Regions from separate parts of the Homo sapiens genome. Here region 2 is linked to region 1. Evidence: fine-mapped expression QTL. A gene starts in region 1. The other region holds a variant in brackets. All regions are shown on one strand. Distances are between the middles of the regions. Region 1 holds the start of EIF4E (eukaryotic translation initiation factor 4E). Region 2 overlaps EIF4E (eukaryotic translation initiation factor 4E).

Evidence for each region.
Region 2: its variant is fine-mapped to the expression of EIF4E in pancreas (GTEx, PIP 0.99).

The regions. Positions count from the first base shown.
Region 1 is chr4:98,925,158-98,935,242 of GRCh38, forward strand. EIF4E (eukaryotic translation initiation factor 4E) reads right to left here and starts at 3,976. Exons shown (of 7, transcript NM_001968.5): 1 at 3,938-3,976. The coding sequence starts at 3,955. RefSeq lists an enhancer at 4,370-5,569 and a silencer at 7,475-7,524.
Region 2 is chr4:98,892,837-98,902,921 of GRCh38, forward strand. EIF4E (eukaryotic translation initiation factor 4E) reads right to left here. Exons shown (of 7, transcript NM_001968.5): 2 at 9,040-9,146. Among named protein-coding and RNA genes, the nearest start is that of EIF4E, 31 kb to the right of the region's middle. The variant C/T (reference allele first, on the strand shown) is at 4,136.

The DNA of each region.
Region 1 (10,085 bases):
AGCATTAAATTAGCTGATTGTCCAAGTTGATTCACTTATGAAATTAGCGTGGTTTCAAAAAATTCAAGAGCTACAATGTAAAAACAAGTAAAATTATACACTTTCAGTTAAGCTAAAGAAATCAAAATTAATCTCTTACCTCAAAAGGAACTACAAGTCAAAAAAAAATTTTTTTAATTCTAATAATGAACGATGTAGAATGAAGATAAAGCTACAAAGAAACACGACCTACTGGAGGTAAGATGGCCTTGCCATTTTCACAGACTAATATTAAACCTAATTTTGACCCAGCCACAATTCAAATGCCGATAGAATAACATCAGAGTACCGTTTGCCCTAACGTTCAAATTTTTGCCAAATTATCCGTTAAGAGGTAAAATGTTTCCCTTAATTTTCCCTTTCAAGCTTCTCAACAAATTTAATATTTGTGGGCCACATCTTCATGTAACTCAACTCATACAAAGAGAAAACCACACAATAATATCAAACTGAAAATGATATTTTATGTAATGTCCATAGACAAAAATCATCCAGATACCTATGCATGATGGGATAAGCAGGAAAAGCCCATGGCTCTTTTTAAGTGTTTATGATTATGCACAGCAGAAAACCATTATGGAAGCTCACAAACTAGCTGAAGTAAGAAAAAACATGATTTTTGCAGCCTTCAGCAGGGGTATCTCAAGTACAATCCAATTCTAATCAGTTGCTTCAAAAAAAAATCCAGGCGAGGCTCGGTGGCTCACGCCTGTAACCCAACATATTGAGAGGCCAAGGTGGGAGGACCACTTGAGTCCAGGAGTTTGAGACCAGCCTGGGTAACCATCGCGAGATTCCATCTCTACAAAAAGTTTAAAAATTATCCGGGCGTGGTGGCCTGCTCCTGTAGTGCTTGCTACACCAGAGGCTGAGATGGAAGCATCTCTTGAGCCCAGGAGTTTGAGGCTGCAGTGAGCTATGATCGCGCCACTGCACTCCAGCCCCAGCAACAGAGCAAGATCCTGCACCCCTACACACAAAATCCAACTATTTAAAACTGTCAAAAATAATTCCACATAACTAGCCTGTGCACAAGGGTATATTAAAAGTACTAAAAATTTTCAGGCCAGGCGCGGTGGCTCATGCCTGTAATCCCACCACTTTGGGAGGCCAAGACGGGCGGATCACCTGAGGTCGGGAGTTGAAGACCAGCCTGACCAACATGGAGAAACCCCATCTCTACTAAAAGTACAAAATTAGCCGGGCGTGGTGGCACATGCCTGTAATCCCAGCTACTCGGAAGGCTGAGGCAGGAGAATCGATTGAACCCAGGAGGCGGAGGTTGCGGTGAGCCAAGATCGCGCCATTGCACTCCAGCCTGGGCAACAAGAGTGAAAGTCAGTATCGAAAAAAAAAAAATTCATTTCTCACTAAAACTAAACACTTCGATACTATTTTACATATATTCTCAAAATACTTTAGTTTCCAGCTTCACACACTTTGTTTTTAGGTTCCCCTACTCCCCAAATTTAAACATAACATCCAAATCTCCCAAAGTCTGTACCAGAACAAATACTGTATCACTAACCACATCCCTAGGAATTAAGTTCCTTAAGGGTTTACATTCAACAAGACTCACATCTTGTATAACTTTGTATCCTAAAGAACACTTGGTACAACACCCTGGATATATCAGGAGCTATTAATATTTACTAACTCAAAATATAGTCCTTCATCACTTTGCAGTTCCGCTCTGTGCTGCTGAAACAAAACTGCATAAACTCTGCAAAACTCAAGGGACCTAAATGTGACAGAAACCTCACAGAACTCCTTATTGTTTTATAGTTTACAGTCTCGTAGCCTTGCCCCTATTACCAGATGTAATGCTTTTTACTGACACTAGTGTAGTGGGGTAGGAACAGATCTAGACAAAAGTGGACATCAGAACCTGTCAAGGGGTTTAAAATGTATATTTTACATACTTATTCTTCATTAGTGTTATGTAATATTAATGTCCTAAAGTCAGTTAACTGTAGCAACAACTTATGAGTTTTTCAGTCAATTTAATTCCCAGGAACATAAATGAAAACTGGTGCCAATAAAAAAACAAGTAAGCAAGCAGAGAAGCTGCCTTGAATTTTGACAAGGTAAGGATAGTTTACACCAACGCAATGAAAAATAAGCCTTTGTGTAGTCTATAAGAGTTTTTGAAATAGTTTTATAAAAGTCTTTAAAAGTGCCGGGTGCTGTGGCTCACGCCTGTAATCCCAGCACTTTGGGAGGCTGAGGCGGGAGGATCACTTGAGGTCAGGAGTTTCAGACCAGCCTGGCCAACATGGTGGAACCCCGTCTCTACTAAAAATACAAAAATTAGCCAGGCACGGTTGTGCGCACCTGTAATCCCAGCTACTCAAGAGGCTGAAGCAGGAGAATCGCTTGAACCCGGAGGCGGAGGTTGCAGTGAGCCGAGATCACGCCACTGCACTCCAGCCTGGGCGACAAAGCAAGACTCCATCTCAAAAAAAAAAAAAAAAAAAAAAAAAAAAAAAAGTCTTTAAAAGTCAAAGCAAACTGGTAAACCATTAGCAAAACCACAAGCTACCATGAAAAGATACACAAAAGTATCTGGCAACCAAGGTCTAGAGCTGGTTCCAGAGTGTGAAAGGTTTTCTGATTGCTAATAAACCCCATTATGCACACAAGATATCTTCACTTAGCTGTGTCGTTTCTAAAAAGGCAACAGGGCCCAGAAGTTTCAGTGAGCCAGTCCTGGCAAACCCAAATTATGAAAAATATACCCTCTGCTTAAAGATTAACTACAAACCTACCCTGGGACCAGCTTGCTTCAGTTAAGTTTAAAATGGTGCCTAAATTGAAATGAAAGTCTGTAGCATAGATAAAGAGAAAAAAAAAGTCAAATGGAAAAGTAAATTTAAAAGTTTCTATTTCCAATAAACTGCGTCTCAGAAATCTTCCAGGAGATAAAGACTCGGAAGAACAGAGGGATTGAGACCCATTCGCATTCTCTGAGGCGTGCGCACTACGCGGAAAGGATGAATGAATGGAAGACGGGCGCGTGTGAAATGCAGCAGGTCCGGCCGGCAAGCCGACCGGCTACAGCGATCTGTAGGCCTCGCTCCTCCCCCTTCCCTCCTCCATGACAGCCCAGTCCCAAGCATGGAGGGGCGAGGACAATGTGATACCCCTTCTCACCACCACCATCCCTCATTCTACTTGGAGAGCTTCACCGTGACACACGAGTGTTCCTTCCCACCCCAGACCTTTCTCGCTTCCCCTGGCGCAAACACCGGCAACTCTCCGGCGCGCTGGATTAACAGACGCTCGCCCCTCTCAACTCCCCTAAGCGAGGTCGAAGCTCCTCCGCGCGTGCCGCGGCACCACTCCCGCCTAACCCACCCTCCGGCAACACTCGCCCACCAGCTCCCCAGTCCACCGGTCTAAGGAAGACGTGCGCGCGCCCCGCACCCGAGCCCCGGAGCTGGGGTTCTGCAGGGAGGGAAAGGCTGCTCCAGGGCTCCCTCCTCCATCTCACTCCAGGCCGGCTCGCCGCCCACCCTGCCTGCGGATCCCAGTACTCGCTGGGAGCCGGCCCTGCGCCTTCCTATCATGAAGACACCATCCTCGCATACCCAGCCCAGAACCCCAGCTACCCTCCACCCTGTAGACACCTCGCGGTTCCGCAGGAGGCGCCACGCCGCCCCTCCCCCACACCGCTCCCCCAGTTCTCGGGCCCCCACCAGAAAGTGTGCGCTACACGCCGCCTCGGCCATCCTCCGGGACGTCCCCACTTGTCCGCGGGAGGTCAGGTCCAACATGAAGGGGAAGGGGCGGCAAGGGGTACAGTGCGCGCCGGGAACGCCGTCCCGCGGAGTCCCCCAGTCAGAAGGAAGACGGAGCGCGGGGACCCGTGGGGGTGGGGGCCAAAGGCAATACTCACCGGTTCGACAGTCGCCATCTTAGATCGATCTGATCGCACAACCGCTCCAGAAGGGGGGGTAAGAGGAAAAAAATGAGATTCAAACCGGATTGGCCAGCTTCTGGCCACGTGACGGATATGTCCGTTTGGCCCTGGCGGCACCTGCGCAAGACTGCGGCTGCGTGAGTAACGAGAGGCTTCTGGGAAGTGGAGTCTCTCCCCCACCTTTTTTTTTTTTTTTTTTTTAAGGTAAAGAAATTTTTTTTAAAAAGGACTGGTCACGTGGCCGATGGGTAGGGTGCGCGGTTCTCAACGCGGCGGACACTCGCTTGCTGGAGGGTGGTTTCAGTCCTCTGCTCTTCCGCCTGGATAGCTGCGGTCACACTTACTGCCAGGCAAGCCTACTGTGCCCTTTGTCGCCCTGTCCTCCCATCTTCCCCGGAAGGTTGGGAACTGCAGGCTCAGCACACACAATAAGGCTTCATTTGCTTAGTTGAGGTCCCAGGACAAGTTGCCTGTGTGTTTATTTAGTTTTCTTTTGATCTCCCACCATTTTCTCTTAGTTTCAAAAAGAGGCGGCGATGCAGAGTCGTTTAGGCAATCAACCCTCCCACGTCCCCTGGCTCAGCTAATGCTGGTGGTCATTCGTTGCCATTTCTGCGAAAGGGGACGGACGGAACCGCCCGCAGTACCCGCTTGCCACCGGCTGGACGAGGGGGAGGGACGACAGCTTTTACTGTCCCAAATCCTGAGATTAAGACCTCAGGGCTAAATCTTGCGTGGCGGTAAAAATTATTTGGAAGTTCTGTGCAACCGTTCCAATATTCCGCTTTTACGTGCACGGAAATAGCCTAAGTCCAGATGCCAGCCAGGGAAGCCACTCCGGGCCCCGCTGACTAAGCCCTGGACTGATGGTCTGGAGTCTTTAGGCCGGGTCAACTATGACTCTTGACGTTGACTCATTCTCCTTAGGCGAGTGACTTAATCGCTCGGCGTCTCAGCTTTTTTATTTATGAACCAAAGGTGATGATACACTTACCTCACAAGGGTGTGCTTCGTAATGACTGTAACCGGCTTTGAAAATGCATCGGACTCTAGAAATGATTCATAATAAGCAACTGCGTGCCTTCCTAAAGATCAAGTGCTTCTGCTTTTTTTTTTTAGCAAAGTTTAAATTTTTTTCTGTTTACTTTGTTTGATTATGATGTACACCAGTGTAGTTTTAAATGTTCAGGACCATTTTTTTTCCTTTACAACTGCAGCTGCCCTCAATAGAGGCTTTAATGTTCATGAAATTATTGTTATGCTCACAACAATCACTGGCAATCAGAAATTTGTCCCCACACTGGCATCCTACATTTCCTTTCCCTCTAAGATACTGTGCTGTCATTTCTCAAGACCGTGTTTTTTGCACAGTTTGGCTACTAATAACAACAAATAGAGATGAAGAAATCTAGTAGACTCCTAAGGTTCTAATGAAGAAGACACTGTCTCATTACTATTTCCCATGCTTTTAAATAATGTTGACACCAGGAAAAGGAGTGTATGCAGGCTGCCTGTGCCTGTCTGCTTATAGTGTTAATGAGGTCCAGAGCTGTGTCATACCTATTATTGAGTACATAATGGATGCTTGAGTTGACTAACACATAATTGAGGCTGTATGAGAACTCAAAGCCATTGCCTGTTCATATGTTTTGGTTTACCTGAATATCAGAAGTGATTAATGAAAGCTTTTGTCTAGTGGGCTTAGCTCTACTAGGTTTTAAAGTAGATAGAATTAACAGGCCAGGCGCAGTGGCCCACGCCTGTAATCACAGCCCTTTGGGAGGCCAAGGCGGGCGGATCACCTGAGGTCAGGAGTTCGAGACCAGCCTGACCAACATGGTGAAACCCTGTCTCTACTAAAAATACAAAAATTAGCCAGGCATAGTGGCACCTGCCTGTAGTCTCAGCTACTCAGGAGGCTGAGGCAGGAGAATCACTTGAACCTGGGAGGTGGAGGTTGCAGTGAGCCAAGATCCCGCCACTGCACTCCAGTCTGGGCGACACAGTGAGACTCCATTTCCAAAAAAAAAAAAAAAATGATAATAAACGGATAAGTGGATTTCTACTTACAGAGACTATCTACTGTTACTTAGACTATCCAAAATAATTCTGTTGACCGCGTTGTTATTTTCTGCTGGTTAGAAGTGGTGTCAGGTTACCTTCTTTGAAGAGAAAAAGACAGCATAGATGTCCTATTTTCCCCTTCCCCACCCTTCCCCACCCTTCCTCTCCCTTCCCTACCCTTCCCCTCCCTTCCCTTCCCTTCTCTTCCCCTCCCCTCCCCTGTCCTCCCCTCCCCTCCCTCCCCTCCCCTCCCATTCTCTCTCTCTCTCTCTCTTCCTTCCTTCCTTCCTTCCTTCCTTCCTTCCTTCCTTTCTTTTTGTCTTTTCAGGGTGTTGCTCTGTTACCCAGGCTGGAGTGCAGTGGCATGATTATGGCTCACTGCAGCCTTGACCTTCTGGGTTCAAGGGGTCCTCCCACCTTAGCTTCCCAAGTAGCTAGGACTACAGGCATGGGCCACCATGCCTAGCTAATTTTTTTATATTTTGCAGAGACAGGAGCGTCTAGCTATGTTCCCCAGGCTGGTCTCAAACTCCTGGGCTCAAGCGGTCCCCCTACCTGGGCCTCCCAAAGTGCTGAGATTGCAGGCATGAGCCACCATTCCTGGCCAGATGTCCTATTTTCATGAAGCTGTTATATAACAGCAAAAAATCAATGAGATTGGCAAGAAAATACCTATAGGACTGAAAGCCAGTGATGTTCTTAAAACTTTTTTTAAACAACAGTTTCCATTTTTATTAAATTTTCTGTTAATCAAAAAACTCGGGCCGGGCACGGTGGCTCATGCCTGTAATCCCAGCACTTTGGGAGGCCAAGACGGGCGGATCACGAGGTCAGGAGATCGAGACCATCCTGGCTAACACGGTGAAACCCCGTCTCTACTAAAAATACAAAAATTAGCTGGGCATGGTGGCAGGCGCCTGTAGTCCCAGCTACGCGGCAGGCTGAGGCAGGAGAAAGGAGTGAACCCAGGAGGTGGAGCTTGCAGTGAGCGGACATCGCGCCACTGCACTCCCTCAGTCTCAAAAAAAAAAAAAAAAAAAAAACTCCCTCTTGTCAACCAAGACTCATACTTTTACAATACTTATGGATGCTCTATTCTTTATGGTTTAGTTTCTTTCCATTTTTTACATAGTTTTCAACAATTTTTCTTTATAATTTTCAAGCACAGAGTTTCAGGAAAATCTCCATTTTTGTATATACTTTGTTGTGTGTGTTTTATGACCATTAATGTGTCTTTGCCTATTTGAGATTCTACCATTTCAAAGATTTAACGATTAGGTTTTTATGTATGTGTGTATGTGGTTGTTTTGTTTTGTTTTTGCCAATCCTAAATATATAGAGCTGAAATTTTATGTTTTATTTCTCTATTTATTCTCTATTATTCTTTATTGCTCTTCAAAGGACTTGTAATTCCAAGTTCATTTACAGAACTGACCAGAAACCATCCAACAAGTACTAAGTTAGTAATGGGAACTATGTAACCAGTGGAGGATATTTAAAGGACACAGGAAGTACAGGCACTTCCTTCCCCGACTGTAAAATCTGGTTGGCGTACTAAGTCATAGAAATATAAATAGTTCAGTACCCATATAAAGAGGTGTGACTAAGAACCAAGAGGATGCAGTTAACAAGCACCATAACCAGCACACATTCACATAATGAATGAGCGAATCATATACTTCCTTCCCTCATTTCATCCAGGCCTCTGTTCCAATGTGATCTCCTGAAGGAAGGCTTCCTTGACCACCCTATCTAAATTACTGTTTCCATTACTCTTTATCCCCTCACTCTGCTTTGGTTTTCTTTAGGCCACTTCATAACCCTAACTCTAAACTTGCTGTTAAACATTATTTAATTAGTTGTTGATTGACCCTACTACTAAAATATTAGCTCATTGATGATTTGTAGATAGATTGCTATCAAATATTTGGGGAAAACTCAAATGTAATTTTTTTTTCCCGAGATGCAGTCTCACTCTGTTGCCCAGATCTTGGCTCACTGCAACCTCTGCTTCCTGGGTTCAAGCGATCCTCCTGCCTCAGCCTCCCAAATAGCTGGGACTACAGGTGCGTGCCACCACACCTGGCTAACTTTTGTATTTTTAGTAGAGATGGCCAGCCTGGTCTCGAACTCCTGACTTCGTGATCTGCCCGCCTCGGCCTGCCAAAGTGCTGGGATTACAGGCCTGAGCCACTGTGAACCCTTATTTTAATTTTACAGTTTGAGAGACACCAATTCCCATTACCTACTCAGGACATTGCTTAAAAACATGGGATGTACGCAAACATGACCAAGGAATTTTGAATATTAAAAGATTGGAGCAGAATTGGAATTTAAAAAATTATTTTATTATTCTAGTTAGTTTTTTGTTTACTCTCTCCTTGGTGATTTTTATGAGACTGAGGCACTACCTACTGGCTAAAAAGGCACCTTGATTTTTAAAAGAAAATCAAGAAAAAGAAAAAGAAAAAAATTTTTTAAGGGAAACCTCTTCTGCTATTCTAATATATCCGTGTGCCAACATTTTATGCTTTTACAATTATAGGGTGCAAAGAGTTTTTGTTTGTTTGTTTAGAGACAGGGTATTCCTATACTACTAGGCTGGAGTGCAGTGGCACAATCCTGGCTTACTGCAGCCTCTAACTCTGGGGCTCAAGCGATCCTCCCACCTCAGCCTCCTGAACGATGGCTAAGACTACAAACATGTGCCACCATGCCCAGCTCATTTTTTTATTTTTTGTAGAGAAAAGATCTTGTTATGTTGCCCAGGCTAGTCTCGAACTCCTGGGCTCAAGTGATCCTCTGGCTTTGGCCTCCTAAAACTCTGAGATTATATGTATGAGTCACCCCCAGCCTGCACAAACAATTTTGAATTCTACATTTTTTTCCACATGACATCTTATTGCAAACATTTTGGACATTGCCTATAGATGGGATAACAGTTTTTAAACTTTTTTTTTTTGGAAAAATTTTAAACTTACAGAATACTTGTAATAGTAACTCTTCTTCTAAGCCCTTCTAAATTCACCAATTATTAATTTGTTGCATTGCCTCTCTTAATCTCATTACTTCTGAACCATTTGAGAGGAAGTTGCAGGCATGATGATCCTTTACCTCTAAATACTTCAGCATGTTCCTCCTATGAATAAAGACGTTTTCTTACAGCACCGTAATACAAATAATGAAATCATGAAATATAATAGTAGTTTTATCTAAAATAAAAACCATAAAATCAATATTCGTATTTTGCCAGTTTCTTCACTCATTTTGACAGAAATACTACAAAAATAATATTGTATTCTTCCTGGTGCATCACATCATCGGTAACATTAGTGGCTTCAGAATATTCTGCTGAGTGGATATATCACAGTTCCCTTAATCAGTTCCAAATGGTTACATATTCAGGTAATTTCCAGTCTTATATTATTATAATGTTCTAATGCATACATTTATGAGAAATGTGTTTTCCTATTTAGATGATTTCCTCAGGACAATTTTTCATCAATAGAATTAGTTTATAGGATACATAGTTTTGACTGTTTATACATAATGGAATTCATGTTGCTCTCCAAAAGTGTGGTATCGGCATGAGATGTCACAGCCAACTTATCAGTGTTGGGTGTTAAAGGAATTAAAAGAATGTATCGTTAATGATTCTTGTTGCTAGTTTCAATATTTACTTATTCACAGCCTTTACCTTTGTTCCATTACCTGTTATTTTGGAAATGTTGAAATCTACAAAAAATTTGAAACAATACAACAAACACTTATAAACCCTTCACCTAGATTCTCTAGTTGTTAATCTTTGAATCAATAAGGATTGATAAGGGCTGGGCGTGGTGGCTCACACCTGTAATCCCAACACTTTGCGAGGCCGAGGAGGGTGTATCACTTGAGCTCAGGAGTTTTGAGACTAGCCGGCCAACATGGAGAAACCTCATCTCTACTAAAAATGCAAAAATTAGCCAAGCATGGTGGCGTGCACCTGTAGTCCCAGCTATTCAGGAGACTGAGGCAGGAGAATCACTTAAACCCAGGAGGCGGAGCTTGCAGTGAGCTG
Region 2 (10,085 bases), 32 kb before region 1:
TTGAGTAATGCTGCATAGATATGTTCTGAAATAATGTATACCAGTTTTAATATATCTGTATATACTTCTCTTAAAATAGTTTTATTCCTACATAATACATAATAGCTTATATATACCTAACATATTATATATAGAGGCATACCTTGGATATATTGTGAGTCCAGTTCCAGATCATCATAATAAAGTGAGTATCACAATAAAGGAACTATCTTTAAGGAGAGTCACACAAATTTTTTGGTTTCCCGGTGCATGTAAAAGTTACGTTTACACTATACTGTAGTCTACATTATGTCTGAAATAGCATTACATCTAAAAAAAAATGTACATACCTTAATTAAAAATTCTATTGCTAAAAATGCTAACGATCATCTGAGCCTACAAAGAGTGGTAATCTTGCTGATGGAGGGTCTTCCCTTGTTTGCTGCTGACTGATCAGAGTAGTGGTTGCTGAAGATTGGGGTGGCTGTGGCAATTTCTTAAGACAACAACGAAGTCTGTCACACTGATTGACTCTTCATTTCACAAAAGATTTCTCTGTAGCATGCAATGCTGTTTGTAAGCATTTTACATAGTAGAATTTCTTTCAAAATTGGAGTCAATCCTCCCAAACCCTGCAGTTGCTTTATCAATTTGGTTTATGTAATATTCAAATCCTTTGTTGTCACTTCAACAATGTTCACAGCATCTTCACCAGGAATAGATTCCATCTCAAGAAACCTTTTTTTCTGCTCACCCATAAGAAGCAACACCTTATCCATTCAAGTTTTCTCATGAGACTGCAACAATTCAGTAACATCTTCAGGCTCCATTTCTTACTGTTGGTCTCTTGCTCTCTGCACATCTGCAGTTACTTCTTCCACTAAAGTCTTGAACGCTTCAAAGTCATCAATACGGGTTGGAATCAAATTCTTCCTAACTCTTGTTCATGTTGATATTCTGACCTCCCATGAATCATGAATGTTCTTAATGACATCCAGAATGCTCAATCCTTTCGGAAGGTTTTCCATTTACTTTGTCCAGATCCATCAAAGGAATCACTATCTACAGCATTTAGCCTCATGAAATATAGTTCTTATTAATAAATAATAAGGCTTGAAAGTCAAAATTCCTCTTTGCTGCTCCATACGCTGCAGAAAGTACACTGTGTTAAGAGGCATGAAAACAATTCATCTCTGTCAGAGCTCTTGGGCGACTAGGCGCATCATCAAGGAGCAGTGATATTTTGAAAGGAAACTTTTTTTCTGGGCAGTAGGTTTCAACAGTAGGCTTAAAGTATTCAGTAAACCATGCTATAAATCGATGCACTGTCATCCAGGCTTTGTTGCTCCATTTCTAGAGCATGGGCAGAGTGGATTTAGCATCATTCTTCAGGATTCTTAAGATTTTGGGAATGGCAAATGAGCACTGGCTTCAACTTAAAGTCATTGGCTGCAAGATCCCCTAACAAGAGTCAGCCTGTCCTTTGTAGCTTTGAAGCTAGGCAATGACTTCTCTCTAACTAGCAAAGTCCTAGAAGATGGCATCTTCTTCCAGTAGAAGGCTGTTTCGTTTACACTGAAAATCTGTTTTTAGTGTAAACTTCCTTCATCAATTACCTCAGCTAGATCTGGAGATTTTGCTGCAATTTCTATATCAGCCCTTGCTGCTTCACCTTGTACTTTTATGGGGGTGACTTTCCTTATACCTTATAACTGACCTCTGCCAGCTTTCAACTTTTATTCTGCAGCATCCCCACCTCTCTCAGCCTTCATAACACTGAACAGAGTTAGGGCCTTGCTATGGATTAGGCTTTGTCATAAGGGAATGTTGTAGCTGGTTTTATTTACTACCCAGACCACTTGAACTTACTCTATATCAGCAATAAGGCTGTTTTGTTTTCTTATCATTCATGTGTTTGCTGGAGGAGGACTTTCGATCTCCTTCAAGAATTTTTCCTTTGCTTTCACAACCTGGCTAACTTATTTGGTACAACAGACCTAGCTTTTGGCCTGTGTTGGCTTTTGACATGTCTTCCTCGTAAGCGTAATCATTTCAAGCTTTTGATTTAAAGTGAGAGACATGCAACTCTTCCTTTCACTATAACATGTAGAGGCCACTGTAGGGCTATTAATTGGCTTAATTTCAACATTGTTGTGTCTCAGGGAATAGGCAGGCCCAAGGACAAGAAGATGGGAATGGCCAGTCAGTGGAGCAGTCAGAACACATACAACATTTATCAATTAAGTTTGCCATCTTATATCGCCAATGTTCATGGCACCCCAAAACAATTATAATAGCAACATCAAAGATCACTGATCACAGATCATAACAGATACAATAAAAGTTTGAAATATCGTGAGAATTACCGAAATGTGACACAGAGACACCAAGTGAGCACATGCCATTGGAAACATGGCATCAACAGAACTGCTTGACACAGGATTTCCACAAACCTTCAATTTATAGAAAAGGCATGATTTGTGAAGCACAGTAAAATGAGGTACGCCTGTATAATATTTTCTCTAATGCCTTGAAGATAAACTCGTGGAACATTAAAGTTACACTTAAATGTTATTATCCCAAGATGATTCTCCTTTAGAAGAATTAAACTGAATATTCTCTGAATTACAATACCAAAGGGCAGTCAAAGGGAAATTTCATTTTCTCATCAACACGAATGTTGTCTGAAGAGCCTTCCAAATTGAATATATATTTCATAATCCTATAATTAATGCTTGGTAACTTCACCTAGACAGAAAAATGAGATGCATTTCAACATGTACTTGATAATTTGTCAGCAACTGCCACCCCATTATCAATAAAAAAGAAGAAGAAAAGGCAAGAAAACCACCAACGAGGTCAAGTATACATGCTGGATTTTTAAAAATAATTCAATCTTTTTTCAAAACAAAAACCTCTGCACCCAGCCATTTAAACACATAAAGATCTATGGGGCCAGGAAAGGTGGATCATACCAGTAATAACAGCATTTTAGGAGGCTGAGGCAGGAGGATCACTTGAGCCCAGGAGCTCAAGACTAGCCTGGACAACAAAGTGAGACCTCATCTCTACTAGACATTTAAAAAATTAGCCAGGCATGGGCTGGGCGCAGTGGCTCACGCCCGTAATCCCAGCACTTTGGGAGGCCAAGGTGGGTGGATCATGAGGTCAAGAGATCGAGACCATCCTGGCCAACACGGTGAAACCCCGTCTCTACTAAAAATACAAAAATTGGCTAGGCGTGGTGGCACGCGCCTGTAGTCCCAGCTACTCAGGAGGCTGAGGCAGGAGAATCGCTTGAACCTGGGAGGCGGAGGTTGCAGTGAGCCGAGATCGCACCACTGCACTCCAGCCTGGTGACAGAGCGAGGCTCCATCTCCAATAAAATAAAATAAAATAAAATAAAATAAGCTAGGCATGATGGCATGTGTCTATAGTCCCTGCCACTCTGGAGGCCAAGGCAGGAGGATTGCTTGAGCCAAAGAGTTCGAGGTTGCAGTGAGCTATGATCATGCCACTGCACGCCAACGTGAGTGATAGAGCAAGACCCTGTCAAGGAATGGGACAGGGATGGGGACAGGGACAGGGAATGGAAGGGGAAGGGGAAAGGACTGCTTGAGGTCAGGAGTTTGAGAACAGCCTGAGCAACATAGCAAGACCCCGCATCTCTCAAAAAAAAAAAAAAAAAAAAAAAACACCTTAGCTAGCCATGGTGGTGCACACCTGTGGACCTAGCTACTTAGAAAGCTGATGTGGGAAGGTCATTTGAGCCCAGAAATTTGAGGCTGCAGTGAGCTATTATCATGCCACTGCTCCCCAGTCTGGGCGACAGAATGGGACCATGTCTCTTCCAAAAAAAAAAAAAAAAAAAAAAAAAAAAAGCCAGGCATGTTGGTTCATGCCTGTAATCCCAGTATTTTGCGAGGCCGAGGTGGATGAATTGCTTGAGTCTACGAGTTCAAGGCCAGCCTGGGAAATAGCAAAACTCCAACTCTACAAAAAATACTAAAATGGTGGTGGTGCATGCCTGTGGGGCCCCAGCTGGGGTGGAAAGATGGCTTGGGTACGGAAGGTGAAGGCTGCAGTGAGCCGAGATTACACGCCACCCCAGCCTGGGTGACAGAGTGAGACCCTGTCTTCAAAAACAAACAAATGA[C/T]GTTTTTAGTTTTGGAAAATTTGAAAACATCTTAAGTGCTTATCAACAAGGAATTATTTAAATCAGCAGTTCTCAAAATGTGGTCTGCAGACAGGCAGGAGGCCCTAAGATCCATTTTCATAATAATGCTAAGAAGGCACTTTGCTTTTCAGTATTCACATTTGCACTAACGGTGCAAAAGCAACAGTAGTTAAATCTGCTGGTGCCTTAGCAAGAACCAAGACAGTGACACAAAACTATACGAGTAGTCACTGTACATTTATTACTACCAACTCTCACAGTACTAATAATGTGAGTTTCATATAAGAATGCCTTTGGGCCAGGCATGGTGGCTCACACCTGTAATTCTAGCACTTTGGGAGGCTGAGGTGGGTGGATCACCTGAGGTCAGGAGTTCAAGACCAGCTTGGCCATCATGGTGAAACCCTGTCTCTACTAAAAATACAAAAATTAGATGGGCATGGTGGCAGGTGCCTGCAATCCCAGCTACTTGGGAGGCAGACGCATGAGAATGAACCCAGGAGGCGGAGGTTGCAGTGAGCCAAGATCGCACCATTGCACTCCAGCCTAGGCAACAAAGTGAAACTCCGTCTTGAGAACAAAAAAAAAGGAATGACTTTGATGAGGCAATAAACATTACCAGTTTCATTAAATTTCATTCTATTTCCATATTTTTCATAATCTGCACAAAAACCACTTCCACTACTGTAAAACAAAATACAATATTTAGGCAATTGTCTGAACTTAAGATTGTTGCTTAAAATTTAAGCTTTCAGTAGAAAAATCAGAATTTTAGAAAGATTTCATCTGCCACTGTAAGCCTGACAACTTCCTAAAAATCAAAGACGCTTAATGAGTTTAGAGGTAATATTAATGAATTATTATTGTTTGATACTATATAAGAAAATGTGTCAACATTGGAAGATCTGCATAACTCACTGAACCATTATTTTCCAAATAAGCAGTGTATGATGTTAAAAATCTTACACAGGTAAGAGATCCATTCCAGATGCAAGACACTGACAGACCAATGGATTTTAATGTAACAAAGTAGAAAAAAATTCTTGGATATGGTTTCAGATTCCACATTGCAACTAGCCTCTAAGAAACCTAGTATCTCTTTGAGCATGTGTCCTACGAAAAAGGGGGGGGAAAAAAGAAACCTAGTAGTGTATCAAAGGAGCATATCAACAATTATTTTTAAAGGCTTTTAAAAACTATTCTCCCTTTTCCAACCAAATACCTGTGTGAGGCTGTATTGTCTTCTTATACTTCCAATGAAACATCTTAACTCCATAGACTGAAGGCAGAAACAGCTATGAAAATCCAGTTGACTTCTAAGACGGCAAAAATGCGGCCAGGTGCGGTGGCTCATGCCTGTAATCCCAGCACTTTGCGAGGCCGAGGTGGGTGGATCATGAGGTCAGGAGTTCAAGATCAGCCTGGCCAACATGGTGAAACCCCGTCTCTATTAGAAACTACAAAAATTAGCCGGGCATGGTGGCACACACCTGTGGTTCCGGCTACTAGGGAGGCTGAGGCAGAAGAATCGCTTGAACCCGGGAGGTGGAGGTCCAGCCTGGGCGACAGGGCGAGACTCCGAAAAAAAAAAAAACAGATGGCAAAAATGCTGTTCTTCCCATTATATATTTTTTATTTCAAATAATTATTTTCATTACAAAATGTCACTTAGGTTAACATGTGATAGATTTTCTAAACGAATAATTTTACATTTCTCAAGTTTTTCAGGTGAAATTATACATTTTTAAATGTGAAAAATAAAATAACATCTTAGCATTATTTACTGTAAAAATATAGTAAATAACAATAGATAAAAATCCACATAAAGCTCTGTAGAGTCACCAATAATTTTTAAGAGTGTAAAGGAATTGTGAGACCAAATACTTGAGTACTGCTGATTTAAATAAAATATCATACATCCACGCAAGTGACTACTATGCAACTATTAAAAAGTTTAAAAAAAAAAGCTTAACTGTGTGGTAAAGTTTTCCTAAAATTGATATGAAACCCAGAAACCACTGAGGAAAAGCAGTATTTGCCTACATGAAAATTAAAGACCTCTAAAAAAAAAAAAACCATACAATTCCACAGACAATGTTAGAAGACAAATGATATGGATAACCTGTTTCTTTCTGACTTAATACTCCTCCAACTTCCCTGCCTTGGGTGAGTTAGCACTCTAATATAAAATGCTTGGAAATAAACTTGAAAAGATATTCCATAACTTGTTAGCTTGAAAGTAGGGGAAAAAAAAGATAATCCAAAAGAAAAAAAATAGAAGAACTGAATAATCTGTCCTCAGATAAAAACCACAAATCATCAATATGAAAATATTTTGAAACTTCAATTTTAAAATGCAAATTGAAAATACTGAAATTGTTTTCCCAAATCAGACTGGGACCAATCTGATTGGCAACAACTTAAAAGACTAATCACATGAGTTAGCAAGGATATAGAAACCAGGAACTCTCAAACTGTTAAGTCTAAGCCAATAAAACAGAATAATGTGGCAGTATCTGCGCAAAGGTTGTTAAAGGGTAATCTTTGTTCTAGGAGATCTGAAATTTTACCCTATATATTCACACAAGTGCACAATTATGTAAGGATGTAAATTACAGCACTGTGTGTAAAAAGAAAAATCTATACAGCCATTAATGTAAACCTAATAAAATATATGGTGGTATATCAATATAATGCAAGACGGTGGTTTAAAACAATGAGGTAAAATATGCACATACAAACAGAAAAGTCAACTGTATAGACGTATGTATTAAAAAGTATACATATGTGCATTTAATACTTCTGGAATACAAACCAAATTTAACATTGACTACTCTGGGGAGTGAAGAAAGTAAAATGCAAGAAGTAAATAATGAGAAAACTGCCAAAATTGGAGCCATAAAACATAGTATTTTTCCAAATGATACTTGCTATTTTACACAAAAAGTAGAATTTATAGAGAAACTGAAGTCCCCAGAGACTTCATTTTAAGATTTAAACTTTTTTTTTTTTTTTAAACTGATGAGGACACTTAAGAATCCCTTCTTAGACTCCATTCAAGCTGTGAGGGATATATGCCTTGTTTACTTCTCCCCACAATAAAAGTGACACCAAGAACTAGGTTCACAGACAGCTAGAAGATATACAGTTTGTTTCATATCACTGAAAAAAATGAAAAAAAAATGTGGGTTTTGGTGCTACTATTAGGTTAAACTATATAAGACTGCCTCTAACGAATTGTTCAACCTAATACATGTGGTACATTGCTTCCCTGAGGAAGGATTTTATCCTTTATAGACTGTTTGACCTCTGATGTCCCACTAGCTGAGAATCTCCATTGTCTAAAAAACTGATTTGTTCCTCACTGGAGGATATACTGAACCAAAGGGTCTCCTATGAGAAAACTGCATACAGCATATTTGAACTATTTATTTCAGTAGGTCTTCCATGATGAATAAAGGAAACATTTAAAAAAATTGAGATCATAAAAAAATTTTAATAAATGAAACAATTATAAATAGACTTGTGGACTCTTTTAAGTAGAGAGTGAATGGTCTGCCCTAAAAAAAGTAAATAAAAACAAAAAAAGACAAGAAATGAACTGAAATACTTCAAGAACCTCAGAAGTTAATTCCAATTTACTTTCCTCTAGATTGTTACAATGTTTCTGAACTGCCATTTTCTTCCCACCATCAGCATTCAGTGAACTCAAGTTAATTCTCATATACCCCAGAAAATAAATAAAAACAAACCTACTGGAAAGGAGTGGGAAGAGTTGGGAAAAGCCATATAATGAACTAATACTCAATTTCCTGTTACACTATTAACTATGAAAACTTAACTAATTTTAATCTGTCCCCTTTTCTAGTCTCTCACTTACAAACCAACCAACCTTCAAACTCCACATTCCCTGGCTCTCGTTTCTCATTCTCAGTCCAACTTCAAGTCACCTGTTCTTACTCTATACATCTGTATATCTCCTATTCACTCTTCAAACTGCCCTAATCTCTTTTTCCATGTTTTATGGAACTACTCTATGGAACCTTACTAAAAAACTTTTTCCCAAGTCAGCACGGACTTTTTTAAAAGTGTTCAATCCAATGGATATTTTGACATCTTGCTTCATTTGACCTTTTTAGCACATGTGCTGTAAACCACCCTATCTTAGAATAAACCACCTTCTTGGTTTCCATGACCACCACTGTCTCTTTTTTTTTTTTTTGAGATGGAGTTTCGCTCTTGTTGCCCAGGCTGGCAGGCAATGGCGCGATCTCAGTTCACTGCAACCTGCACCTCCTGGGTTCAAGCAATTATCTCACCTCAGCCTCCCGAGCAGCTGGGATTACAGGCGTCTGCCACCATACCCAGCTAATTTTTGTATTTTTTAGTAGAGACGGGGTTTCACCATGTTGGCCAGGTTGGTCTCAAACTCCTGACCTCAGGTGATCCGCCCGCCTCCGCCTCCGCCTCCGCCTCCTGAAGTGCTGGGTTTACAGGCGTGAGCCACCGCGTTGGGCGACCACCACTGTCTTTGTATGTCCATCCTTCATAGGCATTCTTCTTCAACAAAAGCCTCCTATATGATGCTAGTATCCCCGGTCTTTGTCCTGAGTCAAGTTCACTTCTCCTTAAGGGAACTTATTTACTAATGTGGCTTCCATTATGACCAATACTTTTCAAACTAATCTCTCACATAGCTCCTTTTGAACTCAAGACTCACACATAAAACTGTCTGCTGGTCATGGGTCATCCAAGTGAAAATAGAACCCTCAACCTTAGCATATCTAAAACTAGTCTCATAATCTAACTTTCCCTTCAAACTTGCCCCATTCACAATTTACCTTGTGGCCTAACTCAGAAAACCTAGGTGTTAGAAAGCTTACCTGTTCTGTAGGGGATGTTTAATATAGTGTTCTGGGTTAGCAACCTCCTGATTAGATTCCGTTTTCTCCTCTTCTGTAGTCGGGGGATTAGGAGTAGGGGTGGTTTCCTAGTGGAAAATAATATAAAACATTATTTTAAATGTCTTAACACATCTATGACAGCAATATTCTAACTAAACCTGAACTGATATGCTGATAATTTTTTTTTTTTGAGACAGAGTCTCTCTCTGTTGCCCAGGCTGGAGTGCAGTCGTGCGATCTTGGCTCACTGCAACCTCCTCCTCCTCCCAGGTTCAAGCAGTTCTCCTGCCTCAGCCTCCTAAGTAGCTGGGATTACAGATGTGTGCCACCATGCCTGGCTAATTTTTGTATTTTTAGTAGAGACGGGGTTTCACCCCGTTGGTCAGGCTGGTCTTGAACTCCTGACCTTGTGATTCACCTGCCTTGGCCTCCCAAAGTGCTGGGATTACAGGCGTGAGCCACCACACCCGGCACTAGTAGTATTTTTTAAGAAGAAGGAATTAAAGCAGATTGCTTCATAAAACAGACCACAGACCAAACTCTAAAGAACCATTCTCTATTCTCATATCTCTTCATTAAGAGCAAAGAGCAAACGGTTTCTCAAATTTGAAAATATAACAGTATTTATAGTTATCCTTCCACTTGCACTTTTTTTTTTAAATAGCAGGAAGACTGTCACAGACTATGCAACAAAGTTGGGAAAATCTTCTATCTTTCTTAACATACCATCATATTAAGATACTGCATATGGTACTGAAGGGGGTATCAGGAAGGATACAGGATGGAAACTAAAGTTTCAAGAGTATAACAACTGTATCACTGGGCACTGTGGTGCGTCTCTACAATCCCAGCTACTCGGGAGATTAATAGGAGGATTAATAGGAGGATTGCTTGAGCCCAGGAGTTTGAGACCAGCCTGGGCAACACGGCAAGACCCTGTCTCAAAAACAAACAAAACAAAACAAAACAACATTATGATGACAAAAAAGCTTTGTAAAGTGATCAAGCCAATGATGCGCAGGTCT